2 separate regions of the Homo sapiens genome follow, and region 2 is linked to region 1. A link means that fine-mapping ties the variant in region 1 to the expression of a gene that starts in the linked region. Tissue or cell type: whole blood. Region 1 holds a variant in brackets; the other region holds the start of a gene. All regions are shown on one strand. Distances are from middle to middle.

Evidence for each region. PIP is the estimated chance that this variant, and not a neighbour inherited with it, causes the effect.
Region 2: it holds the start of CD83, and the variant in region 1 is the best candidate, but not a certain one, in a credible set for the expression of CD83 in whole blood (INTERVAL, PIP 0.52).

The regions. Positions count from the first base shown.
Region 1 is chr6:14,088,059-14,098,011 of GRCh38, reverse strand. No RefSeq gene overlaps it. Among named protein-coding and RNA genes, the nearest start is that of CD83, 25 kb to the left of the region's middle. RefSeq lists enhancers at 2,525-2,654, 3,548-3,677, 8,783-9,284, 9,321-9,370 and a cis regulatory region at 2,176-2,676. The variant C/T (reference allele first, on the strand shown) is at 3,687.
Region 2 is chr6:14,112,248-14,122,200 of GRCh38, reverse strand. It overlaps CD83 (CD83 molecule), which reads right to left and starts at 4,429. Exons shown (of 5, transcript NM_004233.4): 1 at 4,353-4,429; 2 at 4,136-4,251. The coding sequence starts at 4,389. RefSeq lists enhancers at 1-256, 277-336, cis regulatory regions at 3,132-3,632, 3,100-3,926, 3,497-3,997, 4,163-4,818, 4,002-4,818 and 1 more and silencers at 4,562-4,681, 4,809-5,103.

The sequences.
Region 1 (9,953 bases):
CATGGGAAGAAAAATCCAAAAAATCTTGTAGTTGTTTTCCTCTAAGGAGTATGAGGGAATAGGATGGAAAAAGCACGCTTTTCTTTTTAATTCCCTCCCTCCCTCCCTCCCTCCCTCCCTCCCTTCCTTCCTTCCTTCCTTCCTTCCTTCCTTCCTTCCTTCCTTCCTCTCTCTCTCTCTCTCTCTCTCTCTTTCTTTCTTTCTTTCGACAGAGTTTCACTTTTATTGCCCAGACTGGAGTGCAGTGGTAGATCTTGGCTCACTGCAACCTCTGCCTCCCAGGTTCAAGCAATTCTCCTGCCTCAGCCTCCCGAGTAGCCGGGATTACAGGCACTGGCCACCACACCCAGCTAATTTTTGTACTTTTAGTAGAGATGAGGTTTCACCATGTTGGCCAGGCTAGTCTCGAACTCCTGACCTCAGGTGATCTGCCTGCCTCGGCCTCCCAAAGTGCTGGGATTACAGGCATGAGCCACTGGGCCCAGCCTGAGCATGCTTTTCTATATTGTTTTGACTTTTGAAAGCATGTTCACATTCTACCTGGCAAACAATAAAATTAAATCAGTAATGAAGCTTAACACCCAGTACCTATTTGCCATTCTTTGGGCAACCATGCCCTGCTTTTTTGGGGGGAAAGCACGCATCCCACATCCTTTTCCCATGTGTGTTTCATGGGCCCCACCCATATGTGGGGTGGGCATGTGACAGTCCTGTCCATTCGGAGTACCACATTTCTCTGGCCATGGGGCCTGGCCTAGGGGTGGGCGCTTAACACAACTGAGTCAGTGATTTTTCATAGCCTTTAGCTGCCACTGTTAGAGGCCATCTTCCTCTTTTTCCTTGCACTAGCATCTGGGAGGTAGTAGACCTGGAGTAACCAGCAGCCCTCTTGGCATCATGTGGAGCCTTGAAATGAAGCCGAAATGGAAGGAAGAGAGCAATGCTAAGAGGGGAACAGACCAGTTCCTGAAATATTGTTCAAGCCCCTGGATCAAGCCCCTGCCCTTTTTAATGAATTGCATGAACTAATTATTTCAAGTTCTTGCCTATGCCTGCTTGAGTTAGGTTTTCTGTAACATGCATTCAAACCATCTCAATGGATACATTAGTTCAAATCTCTCTATTATTGGTGTGGAATCTGAGTCTCAGTAGAGTGAAAGCACAAGCCCAAAAATCATGCTGGAAGATAATAGCAAGGGCGGCGCTAAGACTCAGAACCTCTGGCTCCAAGTTCAGATTACACAGTCAGTGTGGCAGACGGCCTTCACCTAGGGGACAACTTATGTTCCAGGTGGAAGAGAAAGAGACAGAAAGCAAGCTAAGCCCCCTCGTATGGCCTAATATGTCCCAGACCTCCAGACTCAGGGTTTATGAGAGTTGAACGAAGTTTCTGTTATTACAGGTATCAGCCATCAAGATGTGCACAGAGAAAACTCAGCAACTGGGAAATCAGCTGCATGGTAGCAAGATACACAGACTTGGAGTCAGAAGATGTGGGCCCAGACCCTGATATCCACCCACTCTTGTGGGTGGGCGCCTTCTGAATGTGAAGGGAGGCTAATAATAGTGCTCCTGGGAGTCCAAAGACTGATGCTTTGGAGAGGCCTCTGTAAGCCAGCATCCTCCTCCAGCAGTGCTCAGGCCTGGAAACAATCCACAGGCTGTTTAAATGGCCATCACAGAGGTTTTTTTCAAGGCAGAATTCTGCCTTCTCTTGACAACAAACAAGCAAGACTTGAGAACACCTGGGGAGAACTGTGACCTACATGCCTTTTTGTCCAGGCAGGAGAGGCTGACGCGCCCTCAGTTCTCCTTCACCCACCCCTACCCAGTGCAGCTAGAAACCTGGGGGTGTGTTCCAATGGCCATTTAGGGTCCGACACTGCCATGGGCCTCACACAAGAGAACTCTTGCTCTGCAGCCAGCTGTCTTCCAAAGCAGGGAAGCAAAGGATTCACCCAGAGGGCCATGCGAACTTCCCGCCCTGGCTTCCAAGCTGGTCACCCGCCTCACTCAGCACATGACCGCCTGGTCCAGGGGAGGCCTCTGAATTCACAGGCATAACTGTAAATGCAAATTCCCATGTAAAGCTCATGGATGAAAGGAAGGAAATGAGAATTAGGACTCAAGTTCTGTTGGGTGAAATGTAAAACCTGGGTATCTACTCTGATAAGATTAAAGTGAGTAATTGGCAGGTGGACCAGTGGTGAGCTTCAGGGATCAAGAACACAGGGAAGCAAGTTTAGAGGCCAAAAAGGCAGCCACTGGGTGCTAAGCAGGGGAGAACTAGTGATGTTGACTGCCTATGGCCGGGTGAGGGCCGAGGACGAGCCTCCCAATGCTGGGCACAGGTACAGCTGCTGACGTTGACCACTAGGTACAGGAAACCAGGCAGACCTTTACAAAGGCTGGGCAACATCCTGGTGAGCTCCCATGTGGAACCCACAAGAAGCCACGTTTAGTCTCACAACATTTATGGGGAAATTCCCCTGAATTGACGTTTAAGCTTTAATAGAGGAAATCAACATTCTCAGTAAATCTGGTAAAAGGTCTATGGAAACTTTGTTAAATTTCAGCCAGAGACACCCCCAATGGCTGGTCCAGCCAGTGCTGTCCATTATGCAGCTCATTCCATACAAAGTCCTTGTTCTCAAACTTGGCTAAGGCCTCCTATGAGAGAACACCTTCTACACCAGAAGGTATAATTAGATGCCCTATGGTAGCTTTTAGCCCATGTTTTGAAAATCAGCGAGGTGCCTGAGCTGAGGTGGCTGGCGGATGTGCATTGAGGAGATAGGCTGACATGGGGTGTGTTCATTAAGTTATTCAACAAGCATTCATTTACTGGGTATATAGAGTTTCCAAGCCATCATGCTTAACACCGTGGAGCCCAGAGCAATGGATAAAATGGAGCAAGTCCATTTTGCTCCCCATGGAGCATGTCAGAGGCCAGTTGGGGCCAAGTGTGTGTCTGGGAGCAGGAGGGCAATGGCAATCGGGATGCCTGTGAGATTTCCTGCTGTACTTCCTTGGTGGGGCCAGACCAGAGAATGTTGCCTATTGAAAAACATTTCTTTGTAAGGGCTTTGTAAGCAGACATCTCCAGCTGGGAGCAACTGAGGAATTTTTTAATCAGAGCCTTGATCTGCTCTTGCGGCACTGCCTGAGGCTAGCAGTGTCCCTATAACACCAAACTGAATTCTAAAAAGAAAAAAAATCAACTGATTGCTTCCAAATACTGGGATGCTTATGGGGGCATGTGTGTGTGTGTGTGCGTGCGTGTGTGTGTGTGTGCCACCATGCCCGGCAAACTTTTTTTGTATTTTCAGTAGAGACAGGGTTTTGTCACGTGGACCAGGCTGGTCTCAAACTCCTGACCTCAGGTGATCCGCCTGCCTCGGCCTCCCAAAGTGCTGGGATTACAGGCGTGAGCCACCGGACTCAGCCAGGGCTCTGTTGTTATCCCCACATCATGCCCTTCAAGTATGCCATGCTGCCGGATGTCAGGAACCAGGCTCCAAGGGGTGGTGTCTTGGCATGACTTAGACAACCAGAGACAACAACCCCAAAACAGACCTCTGGCCTTTCTCTCCTCCTCCATCTGCCTCCTGCCAGAGAAACCAAAAGAAGAACTTACTTATAAAGGCAGTCATGGGTCTTTTCACTTGTGGCACTGTGATGCCTGG[C/T]CACTGTGGGGTTTTGGAAAGGGAAGTAGCACTGACATCATAGAAACCTAGAACTGAAAAAGACCTGAAATGTTCATCTTGTCCAGGCACCTCAGTGAGACAAGACACAGCTCCCTCTCCTTGCAGCTCTCCCTGAAGATGCAGAAATAGTACTCTACCTCCTTCAGTTCTTGCTGCCAGGGCTTTATCTCCCAAAGAGGGAAGATTTTTCTCGCAACTTGAGTTCTCATTTAACTCCAGTCTACTGTCTTTTTTTTTTCAGCCAGGAGGGTCCACTAGTCAGCATTAGGCCCCTCACAAACTTGCAAACTCAAAGATAGTGGTGGAAGTGACTATTAGTCTTTTCATTTCAGGCCAGCTAAACACAATTATCTCCACCTACATTCTTCACTTGGTTCCTGTACTGTGCAGGTTTTGTTGTTGTTGTTTTTTTAATCTATACTGTTTGCAATTTTTCCACTATTTTTTTCAAAAATGTGACTGGGGTACATTGAATTTTTGTTTCCCATTCTTCACTCTCTCTCTGTTACAGAATTCTACACCCGTGACCTTTGCCATGTGACTTTGCAGTGGCTCTCACTAGAATGAGTGCAGTGTTTTTCCTCACCCCATGGAAGCTTGGCTCAGCCACAGGCTTTGCCTTGAATAACAGACGCTAGTGGAAATGATGTAAAAGAGGCTTTAAATGTGCTTGCATGATTTGACTTGGCCTGTTGTATTTCCGCCATCACCGTAAGAAGACTATGCCCCAGGTGGTGCCAGTTCCAGAACAAAATATATAAAGCAGGCCCAAAGTAGACCTGGAGCCTGGAGCCATGCCCAGTGGAGCCCAGCCAAGATCAGCTGAGTCCCTGCCAATCCACAGACCTGTGAATAAAAAAATGAATGTTTGTGGCGTCAGCCAGTGAGACTTGGGGCATTATTTGTTATACATTATTGCGGTAGTTGATGACTAATAAAATTGCCAAAATAAGGTCTGATTTAGACTAGAGATGAATTATTACCCTATCCTTGCATCACACACTCCTCAAACCACCTCTTTTGTGACACCTTCCTTGGTTCCTTTAGCTTCTCTACAACTTGTCCACCCTAAATCCTTCTTTTTGGTGTCCTATATTTGGGCCCCTGATCATAGTCAATAAAACGTTTTCTAGAAGTCAGTCTGACATATTACTCAATACTTGCATGTTTGAAACCTTATCAACAAGACTATAAAGTCATTGAGAACAGGGACCATGCGAGTACAGGATGGATAATAAAATACTCTTATTAGGAACATTCTGTACCGTGATCTCTCATCTTTGGCAGAATAAGGCTTCCAGATGTTAGCTGGAAACACATCACCATTGCATTCATGGAATTAGCATAAGGCTATGCACACAGTAGACATAAGACGCATTCGAATATTTATGGAGTGTCCATTGGAGAAGCAAAAGTAACTGAGTTGTCAATCAAATAAATATTTCTGATCTATTAATACTCAATGTCATATGCCTTATCTTTTTTGATAAAGATAATATTCAAATTCTCAATTCCATAGATATTGAATATAAGCATTTCTCTTTCCCAGCCAAAATACATCAATAGAAATAAGTGAGAGATAGTGAAGCCACCTATTTAAAAGGCCTGTGAATCGCTTCTCAGCCTTTGGCGAAGATTAAGTTTAAAAGGACTATGAAGCAAAACCTTGTGTAAAGCTAATGTTTACTTCCTATTTTACAGTGCTCTGTTTCATTTTTATTAATAAAATACACTTTTGTGTATGACAGCTGATCATATTTGATTTTCATATTCTCTATTTAAGACCAGAGAATATTCTTCAGAACCACATTTTTTTTCCCACAGTTTAGTTTCAAATGTAGTATAGTTCCTCTTTTTATAAAACAAGTCAGGAAGGTTTGTTTTATATTAAAGCATTCAATGAAAGGGTGTTTTTTTTTTTTTAAATACAAATCTACTTTTCATATACTGGAACTTTCCAGATGACTGGTCAGATTACTACAATCGCATGTTATATTGATCTGGAGTTCAAAAAAACACCAAAAGAACAATGGGATAAGCCTGCTTTCCTTCCAAGTATGGGCATAGCTATCAAAGCACCACAACTGATTTTGCAATATTCCAGAAATTATACGTCAAAGTGAATCTTGTTCCTTCAAATCAGCCACCTTATTCATTTATTCCAAAGAATTGCCAGTGGTCAAAACTGTGCTGAAAATCTTTTTATGATTTCCTTCAAAGCCATTTAAAAAAATATATTATTAAAGGCAGCAACTCTTTGTCCTTTGGGAATGAATACGATTTTGGAAACAGAAAAAGTCATTTGGGAACAAATTTAGTGAAAAGAGCAATCAAACTGGGTGATATAAGGAAGAAATTCAGATTTGTCCATCATCTCACAGCCCAGAGATAACCACCATGAATATCTTGGCATATTTTATGCTAGTAAGTCTCTATGTATATATTTTAACATAAATAGGATGATGTCACGTGTGCAGATTTGCATCTCCCCTTTTTCTCCCCAGTCAATATTCCCATTATTCCTATTTTACAAGGATCAGACAAGCTAAGTAACAAGCAAACAGTCATACTTCAGAAAGTGTTCTAACTTCCAACTTCTTTCAAAATGCATTGAGGCTGAAAAAAGGAGAACAGTTATACCAAAAAAAAAAAAAAGCCTGATTTTCTATTCCCTATTCCTTGGTGATAATAGCAAGAATAGTACTTAGTTATAACACCACAATGCATGACACATGAGAGAGAAACCAAGAGTGAGAGAAAAGAAAATTATGTGGTTCCAACAGAAAATAAAGAGAATGAGATGCCTTGCCCAAGTCAATCATTTATGTAGACAACGTGTGTGTGCGCCTGCATGTGTGTGTGTGTGAACACACCTTTTATTACAAGTCACAAAAGTTTATTACCCAGTCAATGCTCGGCTATGGAGTAACATCTCTTGAAATTGAAGAAGCACTACTTAAGGCAGGACCAGAGATGATGGAATGGGTGTTTGACATGTATCAGATCTTTTCAGAAACTGAGAGGGGTCGTACTGTTTATACATGCTTTCTAGGCACACAGAAACCTAAGTCTGTTTCCCAAACTCCAAGGCTGCACAGTCAGTGAGTTCAGCGTAGCCTCTCACCACTGTGTTGGACCTCTGTGGATCCAGTTTTGGGAGCGGGGTGGGTGTGGATTTTGTCTCAAACTCTCTCTATCTGGAATGTGTTCTGTAGTCTTAAAAACAAGAGCTGAATATGCTCAATCTCCACTTTGCCCCCCAAACTGAGGCCATCTCCCCAACACCCAACAGAAGATCCTGTTAGAAATTCTCGATTTGGTCCCACACAAGTTACTGCAATCTTCCTACTAGGGTTGAGATGCCAGAAGATCCCTGTTAGGGACTGAAAGTTTGTGTCTCTCCCCTTGCCACCAAATTCATGTATCAATATGTATTAGGAGGTGGGGCCTTTGGGAAGCGATTAGGTCATGAAGGGGAAGCCCTCATGAATGAGATCAATACCCTTCTAAAAGAGGCCAGAGAGCACACTCTTGCTGCTTCTACCATGTGAGGACATAGTGAGAGGATGCCATCTATAAACCTGGAAGAAGGTCCTCACCGGGTACTGAATTTGCCAGCACCTTGATCTTGGACTTCCCAGCCTCCAGAACTGTGAGCAACGATGTCATTTATAAGCCACCCAGTCTCTAGTATTTCTGTTATAGCAGCTCGAACTAAAACTATCCCTATTTTGCCCTTTTCTGCTTAAAACTTGCTTTTTTTGTAGAGCCAGTTTAGCCTAGAGGAGAAAGTTTCAGCTTTTGAATCCTACAAATTCTCCTTTTTCCACTTCTTCACTAAGTCAAGGTTGGAGAGTGACTTCATCTGCCTCAAAATGAACTTTCTCACCTGCGATAAATATGAAGGTATCAGGACATAAAATTATCTCATAAACCACACATTTGGGAACACTCCATAAAGCCAAATCACCCCAGTTGAACCCAGAAACAGTTCCACGGATTGAGAGAAGAGACTGATAAGAATCAAGAGAGTTAATCATTGCAATATGGTTCCAGAAAAAGCGCTGCCTCCTGCTCCTCTCCACCCCATCTTGGGCCAAGCCAACTGAGAAAAGGATGACTGATAGGAACCCCAATAGCTTTAAAGACCCAAGAACATGTGTGAAACCTTCGAAGACCATAAGACCTCAAAGTCCCTTGAGCCCAGCATGGTGGGAAGCAATAGAGCAGAAATTGCTAGGTGGCATAGCAAGGCAGAAAGGGACTGGGCCAACACAGCCAGATATTGTCCCTGCTCCCCAGAAGGGCAAAGGAGTGACGAAGAGAGCCAGATCCACAGGGCCTCATCAGGATGAGGTGGGGGCAGCGGTAGTACTACACACATGGATGACTGGAGGCCAGGCAGGAGAGAGGACGCACAGGACCACGCCGGCACCGACAGGTGATAACCACGCCACGCCCCGCCCCACCACCTCCACCCTTGCGGGGAAAAAGATTAGATTTCTGGGCTGGGCGCGGTGGCTCACGCCTGTAATCCCAGCACTTTGGGAGGCCGAGGCGGGCGGATCACGAGGTCAAGAGACTGAGACCATCCTGGCTAACACGGTGAAACCCCGTCCCTACTAAAAATACAAAAAATTAGCCGGGCGTGGTGGCGGGCGCCTGTAGTTCCAGCTACTCGGAAGGCTGAGGCAGGAGAATGGTGTGATCCCAGGAGGCGGAGCTTGCAGTGAGCCGAGACCGAGCCACTGCACTCTAGCCTGGGTGACAGAGCGGGACTCCGTCTCAAAAAAAAAAAAAAAAAATTAGATTTCTGAAACGCTTTGGAATGAGAGCACTAAACAGAAACTGAAATAGAAATTAAGTTTAGTCATAGAAAGTTACATTTGTTGCAGTCCAATATGGGTACTCATTACATGAATATATGTAAAGTAACTGTGCACGTGGCAGTTGCACAATAAATTCCAAGCATTATTATGATGACTATTGACCAGTTATATTTCTGTCCACCTTCTCTTTCCAGAGAAGTTGAGGCAACCTTGAGTGCTGAAATAAGGGCAGAGCATCCCTAGCATAATAAATGTTGGAGAACTATTTTATGTTTCTTTATATGAGTGATTGAGGGATCACTGTACTCCACCTTCTCCCATCTATTGTAGATTATATTATTCTTCAGTCAGTCTTCATGTTCCTGGTCCACCCTCCTGAATGGAGTACATCTCCCCATCCCTTGACCTTGGGCTGGGCCATAGGATGTGCGTTGACTGAAGAATGGGGTGTGGCACAATGGTGGCATGCCAGCACAAAGAGAGACTCAGAGGCATTATGTCTTTTCGCTTCCTGTCTGGCACTCCTGCTACTCTCCATAAGAAAAGGATGCCCCAGGCGGCCACTGCTTCTTCAGCCTGGGTCTCAGAATGAAAAACACACAAAGCAGACTTGAATCTGACCTGAAGCTTACAACCAAACCCCATCAAGTCTAGAGGAAGCCAAAAAGTTTAGGTGAGACACAGCTGAGGCGCAGCTGACCTACAGTCCCAGGACTGAGAAATGATTCATTTTCATAAATCATTAAAATTTGGGGTTGTTACTGCAACAAAATTTGCCTAATATACCACCAGCTAAAAGTGCCTTCAGCACATTGAAGTAAAGAAAGAGAAGAAAAGGAAGATGGATTGGGAAAACAAGGACAAGAAAGCTTTAAGAGATGAAGGGAAATTACCTTTTCAGGAAGTTTTGGTCTGGCAGTGGTCCTAAAGATGGAATAGCAGCATTGCTAATAAAGAAGAAAGTGGGAGAGTAAACAGAGAGTTCTAGAGATGCTTGTGAACCTTGGAGACCCTGAAGGTTAAGATGGGTTCAGGAAAACATGGTTTCTTAACTCAGACTTGCTACTTCTCCCTTAATTCTCAGCATTATATAACACTCTCTCAGTTTTAAGGAGTTTAATTCCCTTCTGAGCATTAAGCTTGGTAAATAAACTTTTATGATTTGCAATGAATTCTACATTGCTATCTCCCCTATTTCTACTTAAAATGCAGCAGGATGTGTGTTTGATATTGATTTGGGTTTGCAATTTAAATTGTTCTTGTGTAGGTATTTGTCAAAGAACTGATGTTTTCTCCATGTGTCATTTGAGATGGGTTAAGTATGCTCAGGAGGGGACAGCTGATATAGAGGTCTCTCCCTGAGCAGTCGGGTTAGTTATAAATTGCTCCGTGGTTTTTCCTAACCTTGTAATGGCTG
Region 2 (9,953 bases), 24 kb before region 1:
ATGATCTGCCCCAGCTGGGGCTCTTCTCAATATTATAAAGTCTATTTATAGTAGACTTTTATATGAAGTCACACTCTTACTTCCCTTTTCTCCCTTCCTTTGGAAATCATCTGAAAAGGGCACTTGTCTTGTGATGCTTCACTCTCCTCACCCCCGCAGCATCACCCAGAGATGACACCATATATCCTCTTTCGTTTTGCATCACCCATAGGCTGTCAGGGCTCCTAGCATGATACAAGAAGGCATTGCAACTCTGGGATAAATGATCACTCATTACTATCTTTAGTGATTATCAACCAGGCCCAAAGTACTCCAACCAAAGTCATCCTCTCTCTCCAAACCTACATTAAAGAGAGTGTAGACACAGCGACGCTTTTCATGAAGTCCACATGCAGCCCTTTAATGCATGGCTTTACTCCTCACAGACATGATATTGTGCTATGCCCTTTTATGCTGGAATTTAATCACAGGTCATGGCCAGTGGAAGAAAAGTCATGGATCAAAGTCTATTTGCATATTTTCTCAAAATACCTCCTCAAAGAACCACATCTATTACAACTTTTTTTTTTTTTTTTTTTTTTTTTGGTAGAGACAGGTCTCACTGCATTGCCCAGGCTGGCCTCAAACTCCTGGGCTCAAGTGATCCTCCCATCTTCGCCTCCCAAAATGCTGGGATTACAGGCATAAGCCTCAGCCACCACACCCAGTCTATTACAACTTTAAAAGATAAATCGATTGGCTCATGCCTGTAATCCTAGCACTTTGGGAGGCTGAAGTGGGAGGATGGCTTGAGCTCAGGAGTTGGAGACCAGCCTGGGCAATGTATTGAAATCTTGTCCCTACAAAAAATTAAAAACATAAAAATTAGCCAGGTGTGGTGGTACGCCCTTGTAGTCTCAGCTACTTGGGAGGCTGAGGTGGGAGGATTACTCGAGCCCAGGAAGTCGAGGCTGCAGTGAGCCATCTTCATGCCACTGTACTCCAGCTTGGGAAACAGGGTGACACTCTGTCTCAAAAAATAAACATAAAGCTAAATTGAGCTACTATCCTAATGAATATAATGTATTAACTTTTCTATTTCTTCTCAATCACCCATTATGCCTTAAAAAGTATAAGGGAGGAAGGGATGAGAAGAGGACCCTTTGTTGGATCCCAGTTAAGAGGACATGGTCCATAGAAGAGAAGAGCTGGGCCAACAGGAATTGGGATATCTCTGTCCACTTTTGGCTTCACCTTTAGCCTCTTGCACATGTGTCTATTAAGTCCCCTCTAGCCCATCTCACTGCATCTTTGAAACAGAGAGAACAGAATGAACACTCTTCCTTCCCAACCCTAATGTTGCAAACAGATTGGATGCTGTCTGTTTTGAGTTTTCTGGTCAAAGGCATATGATAAAAAACACATGGTTTACATGGGTCCTTTTGTTAATTACAAGTATCAGTGCCAAATGGACAAAGGCAAGATGCTACATGGTGCCGGAGGATTGAGTGGTGAATAGAATTTTAAATTGTGAGTCATTATAACCATACTTATGATATGCAGACAGCCTGCAGAATGTGCTTCAATCTGGTGGATGGTGAAAACCCACTGCAAGGGACTCTGCTTTCCTTGCCCAGTATGAAGCCCCCTCCTAAGCTGGCAAAACAGGTTTTACAAAGCCAGGGTAGTGATGATGAAGTGAGTAGGATGGGATAAGCTGGTTCTGGTTACCAAAATGAAATTCCTCCCTTTGTGGCTACCCCTCCACTTTGATGAAACATTTTACAAGAAACTTATAGAAAAATGACCAGATGCTTAACATTCTGTAAAATGAAGTATTTTGGCATTTCACCACTGGCCTTGTCTCCAGAACACTCTATCCATTTTTGTTGTATAAGCATAATCAATGAAAAAGTATAATTATTGGGCTGGAAAATAATAAGTATCTACAGAACATGCTGAGAGCTGTTTTAAAAAAAATGCTTAAAGGAACAATATATGTCACTTTCGAGGCACCTGATTCGTTTATTGGTATAGCATAACTCTCCTACCCACGAATCTCAATCACCATTTACTTCTCAAAAAATAACTACGGTATGACTTTTCATTGGCACTATTCCATGGATCAACAGGAAAAAAAGAACGCCTAGAGACTGCTGTCCCTTTTTTTCTTGACAGAGCTTTCAAAGACCTTGGGGGTAAATCTCGCAAGAATTCTGTCCAATAAACAAGCTCATGCGTTACCGAGTTACGTCACCAGCTGACATCCAAGGAGAAGTCCAAGGTTAATTGCTATGGTTTAGTGGACCATTCCAAATGACCCTGTGCAAGAAGCTTTCACTCCAGAACTGTTTGAACTTCACAGCCTGAAATTTCATCTACTTGTTTCATGAGTACTTTTTAATTACTCCCCTGGGGGTATTAATAATGTTTTCTTTATTAAATAGTTACTCTCTGGAAGGGATAGTGGTTTCATGTTTTTCCCCGTTCTTTGAGATAACTAAGTCCCTGCCTGGTTAGCCCAGGGGCACTTTGATTTTCTTTATCTTAAGTTATTAAGGGAGAAAACAGAGATCAAGATAGACCTCTAACAACTCAGGATTTGGAATCAGACTGCTTCGTTCAAATCCCAACTCCACCATTTAGCTAGCTGTGCAAAAGTGGACAAGTTATTTCCCTCCCTAAGGCTCAGTTTCCTCACCTGTAAAGTAGGAATAGTAACAGTACTAATCCCTAAGTCCATTCTTCCGATGGATGGAAATGGATAATGTATGTAAATATTTACCTTGGAGCTTGGCACGTGGTGAGCATTCAAAAATTGTTTTTACAATATTTTTAAAAATACTATTGTTTTGACTATGAGAACAATTTCGGAATTGTTGTGTTCTCTGATCCCACAGTAAGTAAGGTACCAATGAAGTAGGAATATTTAACACCTTACTTTTATACACAATACAATGCTCTGAGGCAGCAGCACCATCCCCGTCATGCATAACTCATGAAGTGCTGGGCTGAATTCACAGAGCACCTTTGCAATTTATAGGGCAAAAATTAGGTGCCGTGAAGAATACACAGAAGTATGGATACAGCCACTGCCCCCCAGGGAACTGACCATCCAGTTAGGAGACACACACACAAAGAGATCACCGCAATGATGCCTTGTACTGTTAAGTGGCCAAAGACGTACAGTTTCTTATAGTATCTTTTATGGTGGGCAGAAGAACGCCCTGCATTTTGGGGAAAGCTACAAGTGCAGAGATTTGCCCCCGTGGTAAGACAGCAAATCAGTGAGAGCTACAGAGTAAGGTTGTAATATCATATTCATTTGGGTTAAAATGGAGGTGCTGTGGTAGCAGTGGCCTGACTTAAAGAAGGACCAGTGATATCAAACAGTAGCTGCTTGGCTTTGGAATGACACCATCATTGCCATCTTAGAATCTGAGAATGTTTCAGTCAAGAGGAAACCTTGAAAAAGCCTCCTTGTCACTCAGTCCACTTACAGTAGGAGCAGCAAGGCCTGTTCTTACACATGCGGGCTCCGGCTCATGCATCCACCTGATGCTCTCAAGGCTGCCAGAGGAAGGAGGAGGAGGGCTAGGGGAGGAAGCCAAGGGTATCCCACAAAGGAGATGACCACTGATAACTACCATGGATGAAATGGCCTAAGTCACTTCTGTGTCTTAGCCTTTCCTTTCAAATTGCCCCCTCCCCCTCCCATGTATCATGGGCATCACAGTCACAAAACACAAGAAATCAGAAGTCTGGAGACATTCCCCCTGTCCAATGCCCAAATCTAGGTCCCTGTTGCTTTCTTCCTGACCTGCTGGCCCACAACCACAGGTGGCCTCCAGAATTAATCCAAATGAGAGTCTCTGCCCTTCCAAAACATCTTAAGTGGATCATTCATCTCAGGCCACCTTCAGTGACAGGAAGGGGATTGAGGTCTGCGGAGAGCAAAACCTAATTCGGCCCTGTACCTGGATGCGGATGGGGTGGGGGAGGCGCGACGGGAGGCTGGGTACTCCAAGTTCAGCTGCGGGAGACGCCCCTCGCCCCCACCTGGCAGCCACAGAGGGTCGCCAGCCTAGGGGAGATGGTTCCTGCTGTCTTCAAATGAGCCCACCAAACCCCAGCCCGTGGGTATCGCAGCACCTACCTTGACCCAGGAGACCGTGTAGGGAACCTGCGGATCCCAGGGGGCGGTGCAGGGCAAGTCCACATCTTCGGAGCAAGCCACCTTCACCTCCGGCGTCGCGGGAGCCAGGCTGTAGGCTACAAGAAAGAGAGAGCGCGTCGTGAGCAAGCGACCGACGGGAGGGGGTGTCGTGGAGGGGCGGGGGGCGACAGGCGAGACAGGCGCTCGCGAGCCCTACCGCAGCTCAGGAGCAGAAGCTGGAGGCCGCGCGACATGGCTGGAGCGCTGCGCCGCTGCCACGAGCTGCAGAGCTGTGGCGCGCGGGCGCCGGCTGCCCTTTTATGCCCGCGCGTTCGGGAACTTCCCTGCGCGCCAGCCCGGGGGATTCCCCGGCGGGCAGCGGAAGCGGGTGGCGCGCCCTCCTAGTCCCGCTTAGGCCGGGGCGCCCCCGTCCCCGCCCCCTTCGCCCCCGTCCCCGCCCCCGTCCCCGCCCCCGTCGCACCCGCCGCCCTCGCCGCGTGCGCGTCCCCGCCCCCGCGCGCCCGGGCCGGGCGCCCCGAGTTCGCGTCGCTGCTGCGGCTGGCAGCGGCGACAGCAATCCCCGCGTGACGCCCAGCGCTGGGGGCTTTGCAGACCGCGCTCGCGCGCGTGACGCTGCCGTTGACCCGCAAAAGGAAGCCGGGAACCGGGCCATCCGAGCGGGATCTGCCCATTTTACGGAGGCCAAACCAGATTCCGAGAGGGTGGGCAACTTCCTCAGAAGCCCAGCCTGTCCTTGGGAACGCACTGGTGAACCCAAGTCCTCACTCTTCTCCAGAATCTGTGATAATCAAAGGCGCGTTAGATTTCCATGGAAACATACAAGTCTGTAGTACTTGGCTCCCTGCCTTCCCCGGGAGGTTATCAGTCAGTACCGTCCTGTTTAAATTATATCACCAAAGGAGAGTGTCTCCTATTAAAATAATAATTACACGCATACACAACATTTTTGGAAAAGAAAATTCTAGAAGACAATGAAATCACCTGTAATTCATCCAGGAAGTAACTTCAGTTAACATTTTTTTATATTATAAAATGTTTATAACATAACATAACGTAAAATATTTATAACATTTGTCAGTGCACAGATTGGTATTTTTAATGGTTTATTCTTCCTGCTATCTTGTAACCTACTTTCTTTTAGCTTAATAATTTGCAAGCGGTTCCACATCATTAAAAACTTCCAACAGCATCATTTTGGTCCATTGTTCAGTTGCACCATAAATTAGAATCGATTAGTGTTAGACATACAGGTTGTTTCTTTTTGTATTACTAATATTAGAAACAATACTGTGATTGCTATGGGAAACTTCAGTGTAGATAAATCTTTGCTCTAAAATTGCTTATTTTCTTAGAATAAATACCTCAAGGAAATTGTGCTAGGTGAAGGGGAGTTTCCAATTTTGTCAAATATTGCCAAAAAATTACCTGCAAGGAGGTGTCTTCAATCTATATTCCCATCTGCAAAGAGAGTGCCTGTTTGCCAACACAAACTGTTATCCAACCTTTCTATCTTTGTCCATCCAAGAGGTTAAAAAGAGTGGCATCACTATACCACCAGTTCTAATCTGCTCTTGGAAGTAGTTATATCAATTGACAGTCCCGCCAGCTTGTGTGAGTACCTTTTCTCCAGCAGCCTCACCAAATTAATTTTTTAATTGTGAAAATGTTAAGCATACAAAATAAGTATAGAAAATATGGAATTGAACACATCTGTATACAATTTATTCTTGAGAAATAAAACAGTACTAACATTTTCGAGACCCTCTTTTTTTTTTTTTTTTTTTTTTTTTGAGACGGAGTCTCGATCTGTCTCCCAGGCTGGAGTGCAGTGGCCGTGATCTGAGCTTACTGCAAGCTCCGCCTCCCGGGTTCACGCCATTCTCCTGCCTCAGCCTCCCGAGTAGCTGGGACTACAGGAGCCCGCCACCACGCCCGACTAATTTTTTTGTGTGTGTATTTTTAGACGGGGTTTCACCGTGTTAGCCAGGATGGTCTTTTGAGACCCACTATGTGTCCTCTGCCAGATCTCATACCTAGCCATTTATGCTTCTTTTCAGTTTTTCCTGATTATAAACAATGTTGCAGGGGAGCTGAAAGTCTTCCAACACTCTAGCTCAGTAATTACACTGCATTGTTAAATATTGCCGTCTTATTATCCAAAATGCACATGCCCATTTACACTCCCCTCAGCAGGTCTTAGCATGATCAGATTTTTTTCTTTAAAGATAGGGTCTCACTATGTTGCTCAGGCTGGTCTCAAATTCCTGGGCTCAAGAGATCCTCCTACCTTGGCCTCCCAAGGTACTGGGATTACAGGTGTGAGCCACGTGCCCAGCCAGATCTTTTTAAATTTCTGCCTATCTAATGAGTGTGAAATATTAGATCCTTTTTGCTTAATTTATGTTACATTGATAACATATGCTTCAAGAACATTGGATATTTCTGAGCATTGTCATTCATATCCTTTGGCCTTTTCCATGAGCGCTGTTTATAAAATCTGGGCCAAATCCTTTCTTGGTTATATCCATGCCAAATCTCTTCTCCAAGTTTAAGATTTGTATTTTCCATTTTGTTTATGATATCTTTAATTTACCAAAGAGTTTTTAAAAAATATTTTCATGTGGTCAAATTTACTGATCTTTTGGTTTATGATTTGTGCTTCTGGTATTGTGTTTAAGAAATCTTTTCCTGACCTGAGATCATAAAAACATTCTCCTTCATTTCCTTCCAAAACTTTTAAAGTCATGCTTTTTCATATGTTGGTCTTTAATCCATTTAAATATGGTTTGATGTCGTGATCTAACTTATTTTTTCCATATGGATAACCATTTTTTCCAATGCTGCTTGCTAAAAGTCCTTCTTTCCCTACTGATTTAAAATGACATCTGTGCTTTATACAAATTTCTACATATGAGTGGGCCTGTTTCTAGACTCTATTCTGCCTCTCTTTGTGCTAATATCACACTTTCTTATTACTATAATTTAATTAAGTCTTGCTGTGGTGGAAGTGAGTCCTCACATGTTGAACTTCGTCTTCAAAATCGTTCTGGTGGCTGGGTGCAGTGGCTCACGCCTGTAATCCCAGCACTTTGGAAGGCCCAGGTGGACGGATCACTTGAGATTAGGAGTTCAAGACTGGCCTGGGCAACATGGTGAACCTGGTCTTTACTAAAAATGCAAAAAAATAACAAATACAGAAAATAGCCGGGCATGGTGGCTTGCACCTGTGGTCCCAGCTACTCAGGAGGCTGAGGCAGGAGGATCGCTTAAGCCCAGGAGGTCCACGCTGCAGTGAGCCGAGATTGTGCCACTGCACTCCAGACTGGGTGACAGAGCAAGACTGTGTATCCAAAAAAAAAAAAAATGTTCTGGCATTCTTGGTTCTTTGTTCTACCTTATACATATTATATCAATTTGTGAACCTCAAAAAACTTGATTTGAATTTTAGTAGGAATATATTCAATTTATAAATCTCCTAAAATCAACATCTTTAGAAGTCAGTTCTACAAATTCATCCCATATTGTGTATCTTTCCATTTATTTAGGTCTTCAAGAATTTTTAAAATTATATATATATAGGTTTTTCACATCTTTTGATAGATTTCTTCCTGGATACCTTCACATTGTGTTGCTACTTTCACATATATATTTTTTAAACTCTATTTTTCTAGGTGTCCATAGCCAGTGAGTAGAAATTTCCTTTCTTATTAATGTTAACAATGTGTTCTTAGACTCTCCATTAAGTCACTTGTTGAATTATGAATTATTTAGAGGGTTTTTTTAAAAAAATTTCCCAATATATGGCTTGCTTTTCATTTTGCTACTGGTGTCTAACAGTTGAGGTTGCTCAAGAACAGTCTGTATGATTCTTTGTTGCAATATCAAGGATTGCTTTGTAGCCTCATATGTGATCTTTTGGTAAGAGTGGCATGTACTCGGAAAGAAAGATCTTTTTGATTTTGCTCATGGTGTTGCTCAGATCTTCTATATCCCTTCTGTAATCATGAACTATCAATTATTGAAAGAGATGTGTTAAATTCTCTCCCATGACTACAGAATTGTCTGTTTATCTCTGAAATTTTATCATTTTTTTGGCTTGGTATAATTTGATGCTATGTTTTAGTGTCTGGAAGTTATGTTTTTCCAATGAATTGTTCCTTTTTCTCTTCATTTATTTGACTTTTTTTTTTTTTTTTTTTTTTTTGAGACGGAGTCTCGCTCTGTCGCCCAGGCTGGAGTGCAGTGGCGGGATCTCGGCTCACTGCAACCTCCACCTCCCAGGTTAAGCAATTCTCTGCCTCAGCCTCCCAAGTAGCTGGAATTACAGGCACCCGTCACCATGCCTGGCTAATTCTTGTATTTTTAGTAGAGATGGGATTTCACCATGTTGGTAGGCTGATCTCGAACTCCTAACCTCATGATCCGCCCACCTCAGCCTCCCAAAGTGCTGGGATTACAGGCGTGAACCATCATGCCCAGCCTGTTTACTCTTAATATTACCATCCTCTGCCTCTTCTTTTCTCTGGGTTAATTTCTTGCTGGCGTTTTCAATACTTTTACATTCAACATTTCTTTTTCCTTACATTCTATTGTGTCCTTTTTAAAGTATATTGTTAGATTTTCTTCTATCCAGTATGACTGACAATCTATCTTGCTAACTGAGGGTTTAATTTTATTACTTTGTGAATTCTGCTACATTAGGATTTATTTTGGTCATTTTGTTTTACGCTTTATGCTTAACCAGATTTTTCTCTGCCTCTTCCTTTCTTGCATCTTTTTATTGACCATTAATAAAAATATTTTAGCCCGGGCATGGTGGCTTATGCCTGTAATCCCAGCACTTTGGGAGGCCGAGGCGGGTGGGTCACATGAGGTCAGGAGTTTGAAACTAGCCTGAACAACATAGTAAAACCCATCTCTACTATAAATAAATAAATAAATAAATTTAGCTGGGTGTGGTGGTGCGTGCCTGTAATCCCAGCTACTCAGGAGGCTGAGGCATGAGAATCACTTGAACCCAGGAGGCGGAGGTTGCAGTGAGCCGAGATTGTACCACTGCACTCCAGCCTGGGCAACAGAGCCAGACTTGGTCTCAAAAAATAAAATAAAAATAGAAATATATATTCTGTGGTGTTCTCTCTACTGGTTTGGAAGTCATGCATACTATTTCTCTTCTTATGTGATTAACTTTTTATAATTTTTCATAAGCATACTCGATTTAATAAATTCTAGAGTTAATTAATATTGCCACCCTTTGCCCTAAAATGCCCAAATGCCCGAACTCTGCCCATCTCATCTACTATTATGACCAGTACCCTTGTTCCACTATGTTTTTATACTCCCCAAGTAGTCTTTTTTTACATATTAGATATTTGTTGAAATTTATCTCATATTGTACATCTCACTGCTTCTTTCTTGGTTCAATTCCTTCTGAAGTATATTGTTAATTCTTTTAGCAAAGGTCTTCAAGTGGAAAATGCTCTCTGTTTTTGTGTGAAAGTGTTTATTTTGCCCATATCCTTGAATCATAGTGTAGTTGTAAGTTGACGGTTATTCCTTCTCAGCACTTGAACATATTATTCCATTGGTCTTCTGGCTTCTGTTGTTGCTGTTGCAAAGTTCCAGACAACCTGATAACTCATTCCTTTGTAGGCAATGCTTTTGTCTTTGAGAATTTCTAAGATCTTGGCCTTTCTACTTGGTCTTTTTTTTTTTTTTTTTTTTTTTTTGAGATGGAATCTTGCTCTGTTGCCTAGGCTGGAGTGTAGTGGTGTGATCTCGGCTCACTGCAACCTCT